Linked DNA regions of Homo sapiens: region 1 is linked to region 2. The links come from fine-mapping of genetic effects on gene expression. A gene starts in region 2. The other region holds a variant in brackets. All regions are shown on one strand. Distances are between the middles of the regions. Region 1 overlaps DISP1 (dispatched RND transporter family member 1). Region 2 holds the start of DISP1 (dispatched RND transporter family member 1).

Evidence for each region. PIP is the estimated chance that this variant, and not a neighbour inherited with it, causes the effect.
Region 1: its variant is fine-mapped to the expression of DISP1 in tibial artery (GTEx, PIP above 0.99).

Annotation. Positions count from the first base shown.
Region 1 is chr1:222,838,733-222,848,797 of GRCh38, reverse strand. All of the region lies in intron 1 of DISP1 (dispatched RND transporter family member 1), which reads right to left. Among named protein-coding and RNA genes, the nearest start is that of DISP1, 29 kb to the right of the region's middle. The variant A/T (reference allele first, on the strand shown) is at 4,094.
Region 2 is chr1:222,809,677-222,819,741 of GRCh38, reverse strand. It overlaps DISP1 (dispatched RND transporter family member 1), which reads right to left and starts at 4,703. Exons shown (of 9, transcript NM_001377229.1): 1 at 4,664-4,703. RefSeq lists silencers at 4,743-4,842, 4,933-5,012 and an enhancer at 5,253-5,312.

The sequences.
Region 1 (10,065 bases), 29 kb before region 2:
AGTACACTGCTATACATATATTAGCCCCTGCATGTTATTTATATTTATTTATTTATATGTCTGTTTCCCCAACTAGCCTGTGAGCTGCTCACGGTAGATATTATATCCTATTCTATGCTCAAACCCTGGCACAGTGAGGTGCTGCACAGGTATTTGTTAAATGAAATAAGACACAGTCTCTGCCCTCAAAGAGCCTGCAATCCAGGACATCTGTAAGTCTAAATAGCTTAACTTTATCTAATATTGGACACATTTTTACACATAATTTATCTGTATATAAAGAATATGAACTTTTGCCATTCCATACACAAAGTATAAAAATTAAGAATCCTACAAGTTTTTATTTTTTTTAAAAAGCCACTACTTACTATAATTTTTACTTTTTTTGTAATTTACTCTCCTATTGTTTGTAAAGTTTATTCCTTTTATATTGAGATGCTAATAGTCGCTAATACGTGTTGACCATTTTATACTACACGACTGGCACCACACTGACCATTTTATGTGCATTCTCATTTAATGCTCACAATCACTCTAGGCGATAAATACTACAGTGTCCCACTATCGGGCATGCAATTTAAAAAACAAACAGATAAAAAGAACAGAAGAATATAGTAAAAGAACAATGTAGAACAGGATACAATGGAGATGGCATTTCAAATCAATGGAGAAAAGATAAATCAATCAATATGAATGTTGAAATAACTAGTTATCCATTCAGAAAAATAAAATATAATTAGATCCTAAAATATTCCCCCCAAAAAATCTCAGGTGTACTGAAAATTAAAATGTAAAAAAACCAATAGGTTCACAGAAACCAAGAAAAAAAAAGGCATAAAAAGTACTATGAAGTTTATTTTCATAACCTTTATTTGTGACATAAAAGCCAAAAGCCATTAAAAAAGAGAAAGATGGACAAAACTGACTAGTCACAAGTTTAAAATTCTACATGGCTCCTTCCTTTCTTCTATTATTTTTAACCATTGGGCTAATTCAAAAAAAAATTCACTGGGAGGAACTTTCTTCCTTCTCCCTTCCCTTTTATCCTTCTCCCTTCCCCCTGGGTTGCACATGGCTATTGGGGGTGGGGGTTGGTGTGTCTTGGAGCAAAATATATTGACTTAATAGAATCCAGGTTTCCACTGCAAGAGGAGGGAATTGCAAACAAGGAAAGGGAAAAGGCCAGAAAAAAAAATAATCTATTGGATTGGATTGGAATTGGAGGTATAGGTGTAAACTTATAGTTATTTATAAAGATGGTTTGATATAGAAAATAAATATGGATATATGTGTACTATCTATATTCCTGTGTGTATATGCACATACACATTTTTATATGTGTAAATACAACTTATAAGCTCTCTCCACTGACAAAACCTAAAAGAAATGATGTGTTCATAGCAATGAGCACACCCAGTGTTCAGATCTTTGTTTCTAAATACCATTCTCCACTAAAAATAACCAGGACCCTTGAATGAAATGGCTGAGTACAGGACTAGAACAGGGAAAGTATAAGATGAGCCTAGAATATCTTATTATGACAGAATTTAAGAAAGTTCTCAAATAACTATGAGGACATGTCAAAAGGACACAATAGTTAGCTTAACGTATGTCATTTCCACTGGCCATGCCTGGGATAATATGAGCATCAAAATAAATAAGGATAATACAGTTTTACCTCTGTGGAAAGAATGATATGAGATGTCTGCATATCTAGACAAACACCGACAGAATATCCTTATTAATGGTCAAGTTGTATTGGAAACAGAGGAGGGAAATACAGTAGAAATCTATTTAGTGGCATTATTTTTTTAATCATTTTATATAATAGATATAATAGTTTCACAACAAAATTTAAATACTGTTGAGAAGCTACAAAAATTATCACAACGGAAACTATGCAATAACATAAAAAATTAGTCGCAGTGAATTAAACAAAAAATGTTTTCACTAAGAATCTGACTATTCCTCAACATGTATACATGTGGACAAGGACAGAATGTCCTGCTATCACATAAACTCAACAGTTTGAAAACAGAACTCTTCTCCATTCATCACAATGGAGAATCATAAAACTTCCCTTTGTCCTATATTCTAGTTTTGGCCACAGGCCATTCTACTTCCTGCAACCACAAGCCTTAGATGCATCTTTACTTCTGCCTCCATGCTCACTCCCCATCCAATTCATTGTCTCTAAAATGTCATCAGATTTCTCCTCTTCCCTGCTTTTTTGATATGCAGAACTGCTATCCTAGTTCTAGTCATTATCAACTCATATTCCCTGTCCTTTCACTCTTTTTTTTTTTGAGACAGAGTTTCACTCTTGTTGCCCAGGCTGGAGTGCAATGGCACAATCTCAGCTCACCACAACCTCTGCCTCCCGGGTTCAAGCGATTCTCCTGCCTCAGCCTCCCGAGTACCTGGGATTACAGGCATGCGCCACCACACCCAGCTAATTTTGTATTTTTAGTAGAGACGGGGTTTTGCCGTGTTGGCCAGGCTGGTCTCGAACTCCTGACCTCAGGTGATCCGCCCGCCTTGGCCTCCCAAAGTGCTGGGATTACAGGCATGATCCACCACATCTGGCCTTTTCACTCTTTTCATTGCAACCTCCACACTGTCACTAAAGTTGTCTCTCTGTGCAAACATTTTCAAAACAGAAAAAAATCCATAGTCAACATACATAAAAATTAACTCAAAATGCATTATAGACCTAAATGAAAAAGCCAAAAACTATAAAATTTCTAGAAGAAAATCTAGAAATAAATCTTCAAGACCTTAGGTTAGGCAAAGATTGTTTTAGACAGCATACAAAAAGCAGAAGCCTTGTAAAAATAACTGGTAAAATGAACTTCATCAATCAAAACAAAAATGTCTACCAAGGACATTGACTAGTCACTAAAAATCCAGATTCACTGTGAATTATTTTGAATATTAAAGCATGTCAAGTGGCTAGTACATTTCCAAAAATTACACCCCAAAACAAATTTCTATCCCAAAAGTTATATATCATAGAGGGGAAAAAAGTAAATTATCTTGTGATAGAGCTGACATTAAATGGTCTTGTTGAGATACAGATAGAGCCAAAACACACAAATACATACACATAAACAAATCAGTTCACAGTCATAATAAATAATATTAAGTAAATAATAATTCAAAATGACCTAAACATATTGTTCAAAAATCCAGAAACTCAAAAAGCACAGCATTAAGAAATATTTATTGTGCTAATGAAACTGCATTGCAAATCTACATAATGTTTCAAAAACACTTGTTGAAATAGATTTAATATTTGTGGGATTTTTGTCTCTTACATGGAAAAAGTACCTAAGTCAAAACAACTTTGAATAAAAAATATGCTGAGATTTTCTTTCAAGAGTCCTTTTAAGCAACAGTATCTATGGTTAAATGTCAGAACAACATATAAATCATTAGATTATATTTACTATCCATCTAATAATTGTCTTCCACTTCTTTTTTTCACTTTAGGATGACAAATGAACGGATGAAGAATCGATTTTGAATGCACTTACAATACTTCACTGTGCCTTTCTTTGGCATTTACCAAAAGCAAAGTAAATTAATTTAAATATTCTTTAAAAGAAAAATCATTTTTGCAAAACTCTTTAGCACTACCAAAAGCTAGCAATGGCAAAAACTGCAACTGCGTTTGCACCAACCTAATATTTTAAGTGGAGATTTGACCTTTTTAGCACTACATCACAAAAAGTCATTTTACCTTAATAAACTACAATGAGCAATTTTCCTGAAATATAGAGTCAAAAAGTTAAAGCATTCCATTTTAGTAAAGTCAGTTGGCTAAACCCTAAATGTTGAGTTTGAAGTTTTAATTGTTGCCCAGCAATACCCATCCTTTTATATTAAAAATACCTCTTTCGTGGTCTACAACTAAATGTAAGCAATTGTTGAAGTTGCTGGGGGGTTATTCTAAATCTCACTTTGCTTCCCAGTATCTTAAACGACTCACACAGAAATACAATTATCAATACAAATCTCATTGTAATTGTTCCATTCTGTTTCCTTGTCACATGGCACAATGCTGCATAACGCATTTTTTGTATTGAGAAAA[A/T]CTCAATGTCTCACTAAGAAACAGCTTTGAAAATTGGCTCATGGCCTATTTGCAATTGATACTAAAGCTTAAATACCTTTCCTGCAAATTTACACTAACTTCAAAATACTCTGGGATTAACCATTAAAATGTTTTTGTTTCAGTTACAACACTAATGAACACCAAATGTTAGAATTTGTTTTAACGGTCTAATACATCAAGGATTTTCTTAAAAGGAAAGGCTGGATCGGCTATCCATTATATAACTGAAGGCAGATTAGTCAGTACTGATATAGATAATACTTGAAAGATTTAATACTTAAGCGTACAATCAAGCATAAGTTTAATTCAGAAAACCTGCTAAATTAGCCATCATATTCTTTCCCTATAAAAATACTAAACTCCTGTTTTCTAAGCTACACTTGAAAGCCTCCTTCCTTTCACTCCGTACACAAGCCACTTAATCTTCAACCTGATTTCCCCATTCCTATAAAATGAGGTGATGCTACTATGCTGTCTTACATCACAAAGGAATAAAAAGAAACAAAGGAAGCAAAAAGGGAATTGAGGGAACCTCAACACATCAGGTCTATTAAAGCCTGATAAAAACAACTGATATGATGAGATTTTAGGAAACAAATGTGTAAATGCTGTTTTAAAAATACAAAGACTGGAGAATACTCTGGATACATTCTAGAGATAAACACTTAGCATGTAAAAAGGTAGTACTTTAAGGACTATCGTAATTCCATGGGTGCCTTTCCTAGCCCCAGCACCACACTTCAACAGGGGTATAATATATCTATATCTTCAGCGTAAAAACAAGAGTGACATGATTTATCTACTTTTTCTGGGGCTTTTGCGTCTTTTAATGCTGACTCTCCTGTGGAATGTTATCTGTTTGGGGCCTCCCCAATAACTAACCATCCTGGTTGCTACAATTTCATCTTTCTCTTCCACCATGTTTTCATTTTTCTTTCTTGTCTTTTGATTGCTATTGTGATTTAATACTTCTTGGCCTTCAATCTGGACTTTTACAGAACTCAAGAAGCAGATGCTTTTCCTTTTAGTTAATTATTAATCACTCCTTTCAGCAATAATAGTCAAATGTTTGTTCTTGTTTGCTATTTTTATCACTGCTCAAAAGAAATTTCCCCCCCCCATCCTTCATTAGAGAAGGTCTCTCCCCTGCCTTATTTCCATGTTTCATTCCATATTCTCAATTAGGATATAGATCACTCAGTAAATTTTTACGAGCCATACCATACTAGAAATTTGAAACAGACTACTCTATAAAGAAATGGTTTAGCAAGCAAACAGTGTAAATAAGATACATGTAATAAAAGCTAAAACTTTTGAAAAAAATATTTTAAATAATGTCACTTATTTCAGAAGTACATATATATTTGCAACTGAACTAATTACAAGTCACTGTTATTTATTCTTTAAAGGATTTCCACCCAGAATCTTCTATGTTGGCATAATTTTAGACACAGTATTTGCAGTGATAACACTGCATTTCTTAAAACTATTCTGTTTTTTTTAATACTATCTTGGATTTGCCTAGCTTCCCCGATTAGTCAAAATTAATGAGGTTTACCATTCTCTCATTATATATCAAGTGAGAGATTAAAGTCCTCGGTAAGTAATGTGTCTATAAAAGCAAGGTCCAATGTTATATAAATTCAAGGAAGATGCATTCCACCTCAAATTTCTAATAATTTTTAAATGCCATTCCTAAAATCCATTTATTAACTACGAATGAACTAATAATGGCATATTTTTGATGGGCTACTATTCTGAAACCTCATCAAAATAATAGATCTACTGTTACACTGTCACAGAATATAGCATTATATCCCAAAGAGTCATCTGTGGAGCATAAAGTGCATCAGACAACCATAAGATTAGGAAAGAAAAGGTTCTGAGGTCAAACAATGTGGGAAATGTTGAGCTAAACAAAATTAAATCCATTTTTATTACCACAGGACTTCTTAGTACCATTAATAAATTAATGTATACTGTGACTCTCCAAAGCCTGTGTGTTAACAGATGCATGTTTGTATGTTGGGAGGGGCAGTATTTATGCAATTGTTCCTCAGTTTATGATTATAAAACCATATTCCAGCAAGCCATCTCCCATGGAACATACTTTGGAAAATACTAATATACATGGATCGCTGTCACTATTGATTGCTGTTTTTGATATTTAATATAAAGCAATTTCTGCCAGACACTATATTTATAAAAGTACTAATTATCTAGGGAAAGAGGGAAGGCATAAAAAAGAAAGTATAGCTATAATCTCCTTCTAAAACAGTAATACCTAAAAGGACAAATAGTGTTCTGTCCATATTTAACCCTTCTGCTGTGGCTATAGAATAAAACAGACAATTCCTTTTTTTTTTTTTTAAAATGACAGGTTTTATTTAACAGATGCCTCCGTGAATTTGGACATCCCATTTTTAATTAGGCTACCTGAGGGCTTTAAACAATCAAAATACCAAAAAATATCACAAAAGGCTTTAAAAAAGAGCTGCATATAGCAGTAAATAAAGTGTGAATTTAAGCACCTTGATTTGTAAACTATCAAACACAAACTTAAACTAGACTAGAGTTTGAATCTTCAGACCTCTTTCCTAGACCACTAAACAAGGTAAGGAACAGAAACACTCCAGTTCCTCAGGTACCAAAATAGTTAGCACATAAGGGCATTACTAGGTTCAAAATTCATTAGGTACTTATCACAAATGACAAAAATAATTGAAAGATGTCTAAAATTCCAATCCCTCTGGATCCCACCTCCCATTTTTCCTCTGATATTTCAGAGATGCTTCAGCCAGAAAGAATACTTTACCAATACCAACAGAAAGTAAAGCACTCCAACAGTCACACATACATATTCCATCACATTTTGAAATAATGCCAAATTTTACCAATATCAATATTTTATCCATATAATTATTAGCACACAGACATCAAATATGCTTATAATAAATATCACTTTTAAAAATAAAACAGTATACTCATTAAATAGCTTGATGATAAAAGACAAGTACAGTGAATATTACCATTTGAAAATTTCTATTTTAATAAAATTTACTATAAATAACAAAAGCCCCACTAGTAAGGGCAGTCTTCTGGAGATGGAAATAATTTTTAGAGCTGGTACTTTTTAAAAATAGGAGTCTGTCTAGCGTAGTGGTTAAACACATAAACTTTGGAACCCAGACATGAGTTCAAGAAGTCCAGCTCTGACACTTACTAGCAGGATAACCTTGAGTGAGTACCTAACTTCTCTGTGCCTCAGTTTCCTCTTGTAAATGGAATATTAGCAGTAACCACCTTATAGGGTTATTAATGAGGATTAAATGGTTTAAGAACAGCACCAGGCACACAGTAAACAATGCATAAATGTTTGACAAATACAGGTTTGTTTAGTGTTATGAGATCCTACTAAAAAATAAAACTACTTAAAATAATGTATAATAAGCTTTTAAAAGGAAGGAGTCAAATATGTAGAGAAAGAAAATAAAATATGCTAACAAAAGAAAAATTTACAGATGAAAAAGGTATGTACTACACTAATTAGCATATACACACTGATTTAGTCATTAATTCATTCTTTCAAACATATTATTAATAGCATTTTATATGTCTGGCACTGTGCTATGTAATGGAATCACAATGATAAATAAGACAAAATCTGTGTCCAAGATTAATCAGGTGCTCTACTCACCTTTGCATTTATTATAATAATAATTTGATGACAGTAAGTTGTGTACATATAGTATTTAACTAAATGGTATAACTATGCACAAATTGGGGTTTTGTAATTATTTTTATTTTTTTAAGAACCCTTCTGGCTGGGCGCAGTGGCTCACACCTGTAATCCCAGCACTTTGGGAGGCCGAGGTGGGCGGATCACAAGGTCAGGAGATTGAGACCATCCTAGCTAACACTGTGAAACCCCATCTCTACTAAAAATACAAAAAATTAGCCGGGTGTGGTGGCGGGCACCTGTAGTCCCAGCTACTCGGGAGGCTGAGGCAGGAGAATCACTTGAACCCAGGAGGCAGAGGTTGTGGTGAGCCGAGATAGCACCACTGCACTCCAGCCTAGGCAACAAGAGCAAAACTGTCTCAGGGAAAAAAAAAAAAAAAAAAAAGAGATACTGTACTAATGGCCAGGCATGGTGGCTCACGCCTGTAATCCTAGTACTTTGGGAGGCTCAGTGGGTGGATCACTTGGGGTCAGGAGTTCAAGAACCAGCCTGGCCAACATGCTGAAACTCCATCTCTACTAAAAATACAAAAATTAGCCAGGCATGGTGATGGGCGCCTATAATCCCAGCTACTTGGGAGGCTAAGGCACAAGAATTGCTTGAACCTGGGAGGCAAAAGTTGCAGTAAGCCGAGATCATGCCACTGCACTCCAGCCTGGGTGACAGAGTGAGACTCGGTCTAAAAAACAAAAAAACCAAGATACTGTACCAAAAACAGGGAGATTAAATTTATACAGTGGTCCCTGATTTATAATAGTTCGACTTTACCATGGTGGGAAAAGAATATGCATTCAGTAGAAACCATACTTTTGGTACCCATATGACCATTCTGGTTTTTATTTTCAGTACAGTTTTCATAAATTACATAAAGTATTCAACTCTTTATTATAAAACAGGCTGTTAGTTGATTTTTGCCTAATTGTAGGCTAATGTAAGTGTTCTGAGCACATTTAAGACAGGCTAGATTAGGCTTCATTAAGCTAGGTGTACTAAATGCATTTTTTTTTTTTTGAGACAGTCTTGCTCTGTTACCCAGGCTAGAGTGCAGTGGCACAATCTCAGCTCACTGCAACCTCCGCCTCCTGGGTTCAAGCAATTCCCCTGCCTCAGCCTCCCGAGTACCTGGGACTACAGGCGCATGCCACCATGCCCAGCTAATTTTTTGTATTTTAGTAGAGACAGGGTTTCACCATGTTGGCCAGGATGGTCTTGATCTCTTGACCTCATGATCCACCCGCCTCAGCCTCCCAAAGTGCTGAGATTACAGGTATGAGCCACCATGCCTGGCTCTAAATGCATTTTTGACTTATGATATTCTCAACTTCCAATGGGTTCATCAGGATATAATGCTACTGTAAATTAAAGAGCATCTCTGTACTAAGCAGTGAGATCACTCCCTACCTCTCAGTTCTCTTCCTTTGTTTAACTGTCAGAAACTAGTAGCAACTTGTACCTCCCAGGCAGGAGAAAGACTCTTCTTTGGAAAGAGACATCAGCCCAAGAGAAAAGGCTATAGATAAGTGGTGCCTAATCTTTTTGGCACCAGGAACCAATTTCATGGAAAACAATTTTTCCACAGACAACGTGGGCAGGGGTGATGGTTTCGGTAGGAAACTGTTCCACCTCAGATCATCGGGCATTAGATTCTCATAAGAAGCATGCAACCTAGATGCCTTGTATGCACAGTTCACAATAGAGTTCACACTCCTATGAGAATCTAATGCTGCTGCTGATCTGACAGGAGGCACAGCTCAGGCCTGCCACTTACCTTCTGCTGTGCGGCCCAGTTCCTAACAGGCCACACAGTGTTACCCGTCTACAACCTGGGAGTTGGGGACCCCTGCTATAGATATTAAGAGTCAGCAATGTCTCAATAAAATAAATCTGATCTTCAACTAACAGCCCTAGAGTGAAACCCATGCACACAGAGTTCCCAAGATTTTTAGTATTAGCTAAATGTTTGAGGAACAACCAAGGAATGCGCCTATCACAAAATAAAGAAACCAAATCAAATAGAAAAACAAACAAAAATACAATCCACAAATTGTTTTTTAAAACCAAAATTAATATATTTGGAGAGAGATGAAATTATAACCATAAAACAATAATAGACTATAAAAATGAATGCTCACAAAAGAAGAAAAGGCTTTGAAAAGTTTACTTATATTTTTGAGACACAGTCTCACTCTGTTGCACAAGCTGGAGTGCA
Region 2 (10,065 bases):
TGGTGAAACCCTGTCCCTGCTAAAAACACAAAAATTAGTCAGGCATGGTGGCGGGTGCCTGTAATCTCAGCTACTCTGGGAGGCTGAGGCAGGAGCATCGTTTGAACCCAGGAGGCGGAGCTTGCAGTGAGCTGAGATCGTGCCACTGCACTCCAGCCTAGGCAACACAGCGAGACACTGTGTCAAAAAAAAAAAAAAAAAAAGATATGTGTGTGTGTGTGTGTGTATGTATATAACATATTAAAACCACAAAAAAAGAGTAACTTTTAAATGTCAGAGAGTGGAGGGGCCATTAAATTGTCCATTTTCCATTCTTTGACATAATGAAAACCCAGATTTTCACTGTTTTTAAATCCCTTAAAAAGTAACTGGGCTATGAATTTTGATACTTTTATTAGTCCATTCTCACACAGCTATAAAGAACTACCTGAATGGGTAATTTATAAAGAAAAGAGGTTTAATTGGCTCACAATTCCACAGGCTGTACAGGAAGCATAGCTGGGGAAGCCTCAGGAAACTTACAATCATTGCAGAAGGCGAAGAGGAAACCAGTGTGTCCTACATGGCTGGAGCAGGAGAAACGACGAGCACAGGGGCAGGTGGGACACACTTTTAAACAACCAGATTTTGTGAGAACTCTATCATGAGACAACACTAGAGGGATGGTGCTAAACCATTAGAAACCACCTCCATGATCCAATCACCTACCACCAGACTCCACCTCTAACACTGAGAATTACAATTCGACATGAGATTTGGGTGGGGACACAGAGCCAAACCATATCAATATTCTCCTATTGACTATGCAACATTTTACACGCCACATATTAGTTTAATACAGCAAAAGTATTTTAAATGCTGTCATGGTTAGCCTTATGTGTCAACATGGTTAGGTTATAGCACCCAGGTATTTAATCAAACACCAATTTAGGTGTTGCTATAAACATATTTTGTAGATGTAGTTAATGTCTACAATCAGTTGACCTTAAGTAAAGGAGATTACCTTCCGTAATGTTGGTAGGACTCATCTAATCAGCTGAAGGCCTTAAGAGCAAAACCTGAGGTTTCCCAAAGAAGAAAGAATTCTGCCTCAAAACTACAGAATCAACTCCTGCCTAAATTTCCAGCCTGCTGGTCTGACCTACAAATTTTGTACTTGCCAACTCCCACAACTGCATGAGCCAATTTCTTAAAATAAATCTCTTTTAAAAATACACATATATATGTGATATTGGTCTGTTTCTCCGGAGAACCATAATTATACACTAACACAGTGAAAATCAAACTGGTACTATTTTGCTTCAAGAGGCTCCACCAGGTCATTCACACAAGAGGTGGGAGGCTCCACCAGGTCATTCACACAAGAGGTGGGAGGGATTCCCCTCCCAGCCCTCTCCAGGTAACAAAGGAGTGCATCATCTGTGTGGTATTCAAAAACTATAATAACAACTAAAAGTCTTTCTGCTGTATTATCACCAGGAGCTGGCAATTCTAAACCTCAGTGCTAAAATACTCTTTCCAACTATAGCAGACAGCTCCCACCATCAAGACCCCTAGTATGTCACTGGTAGTGGTCAACTTCCCCCACCCCCCCATGCAAATCATTTATCCAATAGTTCTTCTATTCCTTAGGCTCTCAAAATTAAAAACAAAACTAATAATAACAACAAAGGTTAAGGGCAATCAGTGTGTTTTCTACAATATTTGCCATTGTGAGTTATAGCCTATCACTTTAACAGAAAAGTTCATCTACAGTGTAATGTGATGCCTCACTCAAAGCAAAACTGAGTCTATTTATATAATCCAACAAATTATGATTTAGTATTAAAAGTATTTTTAAAACAATAACCTAAACAAGAGGTTCACAGTCATAACTACATGCCTATAGGCTGGAAAATGTGCCAAGATTTATGGGATCAGATTCAGCAGAATGGACAGGGCCCTACTAACAGGACTGCAGTGATTCATCCCCTTTTGAGTCACTCTGAGGCCCAAGTCATCTTGGTCACTATTGGAGAAAAGGTCTAACTCACCAGAGGAAAAGGACAGAAAGTATTACTAAAAGCAGTCAACCCTGTGTGAGTCAACCTCATTAAGGGCCATGCTTTTCATCAGAGGCAGTGCAGCAGCTGGACCTTAAGTTAACAGATCAGCAGTCTTTCGTAGCTCCTCATCCAAAAACTGTACTTCCCCATTGTAACAAATATTCTTGATTCTATCAAGTGGCAGGAAATGGCTTTCTAACTAGAGTATGCCGATAATTGAGAACGTACTATATAATCAGAAAATTGATAACCAAAGGGCATAGAAGCAACGAGCTCAACTTAGCAAATTATTTCGTATTTTACAAACTAGAGATTAAGGAAGACAAATGTATGTGTATATGAAGACAGTGTTTTGGTTATCACTATTTTGATAGTTCTTCCAATACAGACACTGTACATATTTCAGAAATAAAAAGAAATAGTGAATCTATAAAATAGCCAGCAGTTCGCTGTACTTAATCAAAAACTGCCATTATTGGTTAAACTGTAAAATACATCTAAATCCTACGGAATAACAAAAATAATTTATCTAGAGAGAAAGCTAAATTTACTAAACAATTAGAAGAAAGAATACAATTCCAAAGATTTTCCGGAATACAGGGCAATCCAACCTCAACATACCATTCATATATATAGCTAGCCCAACTTGCCCAAGAGGGCAAGTGCTCTTGTGTTTCAACAACGAGCACTTCCTCCAACCATGAACTAATGTCTAAAGACTTGCATGCTTTCTCAAGTGCTTTATTTCTCAAAAACCATGGGAAAAGGCGGAAGAAAAATAAAATCAAGTCTTATCAGATAAACAATATTGTCTACTTAAACAAATAAGATTAAATTGAGACATATACAGAAATTAACATGGCAGTTAATTCAATTACTTTAGAGATCAGTGTTATCTCTTCATTTTGTAATTTGAAAACTTATTCAATATGCTCATTTACATGTTAAGGCACTGTTTATGTTTAGGCCTTGCTTTACACTTGTAAATATCAGCAGTCCTCCTAAACATAAGGACGTTATAACTGTGTATTTCACTCAAGCACAGATATTCAAGGCCATCAAGAATTTATAAGCTAGCAAGATATCGCAGTACCAATAAATATAAAATGTTCTAGTTTTCCTGAATTAGTTCAAGTCAGACCACCAAATCAGATCTAAAAGTTACCTGTACTAATACAGTAATTTTTAAAACAAAAACTTCTAACATTTGAAATGTGAAACACCTGAAACAAGCAAAGCAATCATCAGATCTCACCCTCCATCAGTGACAGTGTTATGATTCTTCCTAGCTACCTTGCTCACTTTGTGGCAAAAATCCAATTCACTTACTACCTACTTAAAAGCTAGGAGAATCTTTGTAATTACACTGAGTGAAACACTATATTATGTAGATTAGGAAGCACATATTAATCACATCCAATAAAACATAAATGCAAGGTAAATAATAACTAAATCAATAATTACCTTTGGTAATAATAATGAGCCCACATACCAAACACTGGCCACTGGGGAAAACTAAATGTGCTAATGTGCGTGTAACAACAGATCTTGGGTTATCAATATTTTTAAAAAACACTGACAATGGCAAATATTTATATATATATATATATATATATATATATATTTCCTTACAGCAGAAATAAAAAGGAACAGTAAAATCTTAAGAACTGCTAGTAATTTGCTGCACCCTGATGTAAAATTGCCTTTATTGGTTAAACTAAAAGACTAAACCCAACAAAATAGCTTTTAGAAAAAATGTGTTAGAAAGTTGGACAGAAAAACAATGAGTTGAAACTGCAAACATTGACAGCACTGGCTTTCCATGTGATTATCACCATAATTCTGAACGCATTTAGTTCATCCCATGACAAGGGAAATAAGACAAGCTAAACTCTGCAGGGTAGAGAAGAGTCCAAAAGGAAAACTTTGGTTGTCTTCCTTGGGTGAAGAGAACTCTCAACTACTATCAGTTTGACAAAGACACGCAGAATCTGGGTGAAGCAAGAATTCGAGCGGTCCCTAGGAATATACAATATTTTCCCGAAATCCACACGCGCGGAGCGGGATATATTTCTAAAAACAAAAAACAAACTGCATGAATTGCAAATGAAGCAATAGGAGTTCAGCATCCAATAGGTGGCTGGTCATCTTTCTGGTTCGTTAGGTCAAGACGTCCTTCTCACCTACGACCCTCAGAGAAGGACTGACTCCCTCCTCTGTAACCTCTCCCTGGAAGCCAACCTTTGCCATCTCCTGCCATCCTCTCAGTCAATCCGCCAGGACCCGGGACACGCCCCCACGAATGACTACTTTCCTCCGAGATGCAACTCTGCCCCGTGTCATCCGCAACCTCCAGTCTCAGGGCCTCTTTGGCCTCAGGGTCCCCGGTGCCTCCCTCCTCAGTCCCTAAAGGCTGCCCTTAGGGCTCTCCTGGTTCCCCGTTCTCAGTCCTGGCCCTTCTCTCAAGCCTGGGGTCCCGGATTTCCCTCCACACGCGCGGGAGATGCCGACTCTCCCGTCCCTACCCGGTCTCCCAGTCCCGCGGCGCCGGGCGGCGGCGCGCCGAAAGGCATCCACTGAGGAAACAAGTGCCTGCAACGTTCCGGCTGCGAACTCACCTCCAGTCCGGGCTCTCGGATGCTGGCCCGGAGCCGGGCTTCCGCCTGGCGCGGTCCGCGTCGCGAGCGGGACCGGAAGTCCCGCCCCTCGCCCGCTCCCGGCCCGCTCCCGGCCCGCTGGCCTCGCTTGACTACCGCTCCCCGGGAGAGGGATCGCCGGCGGCGGGCGACGGGCGGCTGGCAAGGGGCAGAGGGCAGAGGGGCTTGGCTTGAAAGGGCGAGGCAGGCGCCAAAAAAATTCCCTCTCGCGCTCCTGCTCTTTCTAGTGTATCCATCGACCAGTGTGCAAATGCTTGACCAAGCGTCTATTCTGCCCAAGCCCAGTGAGGCACAAGATGACTCAGACACTGACCTCTGTCCTCACAATCTAGTTAAAAGTTGACATAAGTAAAAACAGAAGTAAATCACGCCACAAGACAGTGTTTCTTCTTTCATTATTCAGATTATTATCACCTGCTATATAGGCCTGTGAACAACCAGGCACTGCTGTAGGGGCTGGGGATAGAGCGAACAGAGGACAGCCCCACTCTCGTGAGGCTTACACTCAGGGCGAGGAACTAGCTATAGAATAAATCGAACAGCGGCGGCTCCCTCGGGAGGCTTATGCACAGAAACAAAAATATATAAGCAATGAAACCATCAAGTGTTAGAGGCACTCTGGTGGTGCTGTAGGGAACGGTGCAATGTAGAGAGCTGGGCGGAGAAGGCTTTCTAGAAATAATGACTCTTCAATTGAGACTGAAATAAATGATGAATAAGAGTTAAAGGACAGGCACAGTGGAGAAGGGCATGCAGAGAAGAAGGACGTTATGGAGTGAGAGCTTGGCTTGTACCGGTAGCTGGCCAGGAGTTAAGCAAAGTGTCAGATGGCAGATGCAAGAGCAAGCATAATGAGAAGAGACAAGGCCAAATCATGAAGAACGTTGTGCCCTATGCTTAAAAATTTTGGACTTCAGAGACTCCGTGCAACGGAATCCGTGGGGTCATCTAAGGGAATAGACAAAACAGTGAGTCATGGGGTTGACTAGGGGGATTGTCCTAGTCATCAAAGAAAAATAATACATCATGAATAGCATGTTTTATCCTTGAGGGTGCTTTCTTGAACTGCCATACCCAGATGTAAAGGCAATAGACGGCTACCACAACCCTATAAAGGCAGGACCACAAGGGATCATACCCCTCAGGTTGCTGCATTGAGCAAATCACCCCAACCAACTGAGATGCTAACTGAAGTCACAGGGAACTATGGAATGGGCCCAGAAGAAAGAAGCTTCAACACCAGCTACAGTAATGAGGACTGTTGCATTTTTTGTTTGTTTTCTTTGCTACCAGTGTTTAATAAATACTCTCTTGCACACCAAGCCCTTTCTTTGCCTTTTTAAAAAGGAATGGTATAATACATACATTTTTCTTTTTTTCTCCTTTTGCCAGCAAAAGGCCATACATTGCAATATATGGAGATAGGATTACAGTAGAAGAAAATGAGGAATGGATATCGTGTAGAAAGTCTGTACTTAGAGGGCATAACATCAACTCTAAGTGAAGTAAAAGGTCACGCGTTTGGGTTTTCTCCCATTGGGAAGGTTAGTAGTCCATTTGTGGTGATACTTGAAATAACTGATTCACATAGCGGCAAGGTGTATTTTTGAAAGGATGGAAAGAAGAGAGTGTGTATGTGGTGTGATGTGGGGGGTGTGTGTGTGTGTGTGTGTGTGTGTGTGTGTGCCCACGCTGGGTGCCAAGAAGTAGAATGTAATAGACACTCTGTGAAATGTTTCCTTATAGCTTCTCACAATTCCTTTTTTTGTAGGAATGGCTGAAATACATAGAGGCAGTCCTTTTATGGGCCACATATGCACAAGCGACCATGTCCTAGTGTGACCAGCTACTCTGGTTTGCTAAAGACAGGGGGATACCAGGATGCTGGACTTTCGGTGCTTAAACTGGGATAGTTTTGCGAAAACTGAGACAAGTTGGTTGCGCTACCATGTCCCTTGTCTACATAACAGATTAATTCAGAGGTGGGCATATCCTAAACCAGACCATTTAGACTCTTTGCCCCAGAAATCTTAAATGAGGCATAGAGAAACACAGAGAGAATATAGTTACTCAGTAGAACTGAGTCACAAATGGCAGTTCCCTAAAGAAAAAATCTATTAACACCCTTTGCCAAAGATCCAGGACCTGCCCTGTTTCCTTTGGTTATAGGAGATATCCCTGTATAATTCCAAAACTTTTTTTTTTTTGGCTAGTCAAAGAAGATTGCTGCTGCTTGCAACCAAAATAATCTTAAGGAGCATATTCATTTCCAATCCTTGTTTAAGATAATGTGCTCCAAGAGTCTCTTCTGAATGGGCACTGAGCTGAACGAACCATACTCATTGCCACAGCAAACCAGACCAAATATGAACACTGAACTCAAACAGGCCTAGAAAGTCTCACATGCATGGATTTTGCAATGCACATATAGGGCTCCACTCTTGCATGCTAAATTAGAAATGTCCAAACCTAGAATTAGGTTAGGCATGAGTAAGATGTTCAAAACTGATGGGAAAAGGGGGAAAGCAACAGGAATGATGAGAAGGAAATAAGGATAAGGAGAGAAAGATGGAAAAAGAGAAGACTTATCTGAGAGGTGAACATCTTAGTTCCCTTCTTTTCAGTTTCTGATTCCCCAGTCCCTTATGAGATCCAGCTAAATGTTCTGCCCTTAAGTTCTACGAAAATTCCGTGTCCTTCCAGTAAACCCCCCATTTGGTTAAGAATCATTTTAGTAGGTTTCCCCTCCTAGCAATCAAACCCCAAGACATCAATTCACAAGACACAAGGTTGCCCACTCATTCTATAGCATGCACCAGAGTTCTGGAGCCACTTTCTCTCCTCAGACTCAAGAACAGGAGAAGGATTTGCACACCTCCATGGCTGCCTGGTCCATTCAGGAAAACTGTCACAATTACCATGGGTTAGATGACTTTAACTATTAAAATCACACAGGTGGGGAGAATCATGCAATCAGAGTGTAAAGTGGAAGGAGACTTTGGAAACCATGCATGTCAACAGAGGAAGGAACTAATGCCCTTCCAGCTAGGCATAGTGGTTTTCCTAAGGCTAAATAGTTCAGTAGTCCCAGAGACAGGATTAGCTAACAATCTCGTCTCTCAACAACTGAGGAAACTACTGTGAAATCCTTGAAAGTGCACTATTCAGTCTCCTCCCACTCAGCTCCTGATCTTTGGAGTTTACCCACATCTGTATAATGGCATCAGCCTGACTGCGGAACTGTGAGAGCTGTTCAAAAGCCATTTGTGGGTGACAGTAGATAGTGAATATGTTAATCTGAATCAGGAGAGAAAATTTTAAGGAAAATTTTCCTACTTTTTTTTTCCGTACTCGCCAACTGGCTCAAACAGGTAGATGGGTTAATTAACAGAGCTAATAAGGTTAGTTATTCATAAAGTTTATTTACACATTCTACATTCTCTTTAGTTCATACATGGGTATATGTCGTTTCCTTACTTTTTTTTTTTACCACCAACATAAACATCGATATATTTGCAGTTATGTCTAAAACTATATCCTCGTCCCTTTGTAATTTAGTGGCAATTTACTAAATTACTACTAAATCCAGTAATTTAGAAATTTGTGGCAAAATCAACTAGTCTACACTTGGAAGCAATCACAACACCAAACTTGCATTAATTACAGATTATGAAATGAGTGATAAATAAGGTCAGCCAGGGATCTCCAATTAATAATTCCTAACTCTTCTGCAGCTTATTAAAGGCCAGATATTTTCTATGAAGATCTTAACATCTCTTACATAAAGTGAAAAATTAATTACTAAATTTAAAGTGCCATTTCCTTCCTAATGATGTGCAAATATTACTCACCGTCATCATCTCCAGAAATTTGGCACTGTTGTCCAGGCTGGAGTGCAGTGCTGCAATCTGGGCTTACTGCAGTCTCTATCTCCTGGGCTCAAGCCGTCCTTTGACCTCAGCCTCCTGAGTAGCTGGGACTACAGGCATGCAACACCATGTTTGGCTAATTTTTGTATTTTTTTTTAAGAGATGGGGGTCTTCTTATGTTGCCCAGGCTAGTCTCGATCTCCTGGGGTCAAGCGATCCTCTTGCCTCAGCCTCCCAAACTGTTGGGATTACAGGCATGAGCCCCCGCACCCAGCCCAGAAATTTTTCATCTTCCCAAAAATGATACTTTGTATCCATTAAACAATAATTCTCCATTTCCTTCTCCCCTCAGTGTTTTGATGTAATTTTATGTTTGTATATCCTGCAAAAACATTTTTAGCACTGATTCATATCTTCTTGAAGTAAATACATTTCTAATAGAAATAATATTTTGCCCTTTTCAGCTCTTTTCTCCTGTGGAATCCAAATAAAACATGTGATTTCCACAGGGATGCCGTTCTGCTTCAGACCTCTTTAAGAGCTAAACCAATGGAAATTCCATGTGTAAAAGAAACATAACAGGGAGACTTGGCATGATACTCATTAACTAAAAATCTGGGTGGATGTGTTCCTAAGGATTTTTATTCAAGTTAATACTTTTGAACTCCAATCCTGCTTGTTTCTCTGCAAAAGCAATGGGCATTCCACGTGTTTGATTGGTGCACAAGCCTCACTTCATTTTCCTCCCAGGAAAATCAAAACTAAGCAGAGATACTGCCGCCAGAGAAAGCTTCACCTGCTAAATTCCACAGCGACTAATAAAACAAGCCTTTGTTTTTCAGTAAAAATTTCACTCCATGGTTGGTAACTAAAATAGACCCGCAGCTCTAATCCTAACTTGGAAATCTCACCAGTAGGTAAGTAACAGAATGAATTTTCAGTTCTGTGTCTCAGTGATAAGAAACATATTTCCTAAAACAGAATTAACTACAGGCTGGGAATATTGAGGCAAAACTTTTCCTGTAGAAACAATGGATTCATGCCTTAAAGGGGGCTACACCTTCTCTACTTCTCTAGTTAGTGAGAAGTCACTTCTTTTATTTTTAGCATTCTCTTAAAAACTTTTAAAATCAAACAATAAAGCACAGGTTGATTATAGTTGCCTTGAGTAGACATGGTAGAACCATAGCAGGTTATTTCTTTTCTTTTTTTTTTTTTTTTTTTTTGAGACGGAGTCTCACTTTGTCACCCAGGCTGGAGTGAAGTGGCATGATCTCAGCTCACTGCAACCTCCACCCCCGGGGTTCAAGCAATTCTCCTGCCTCTGCCTCCCGAGTAGCTGGGATTACAGGTGCCCGCCACCACGCCTGGCTAATTTTTGTATTTTTAGTAGAGACGGGGTTTCACCATGTTAGCCAGGCTGGTCTCAAACTCCTGACCTCAGGTGATCCACCCACCTCGGCCTCCCAAAGTGCTAGCATTATAGCAGGATTA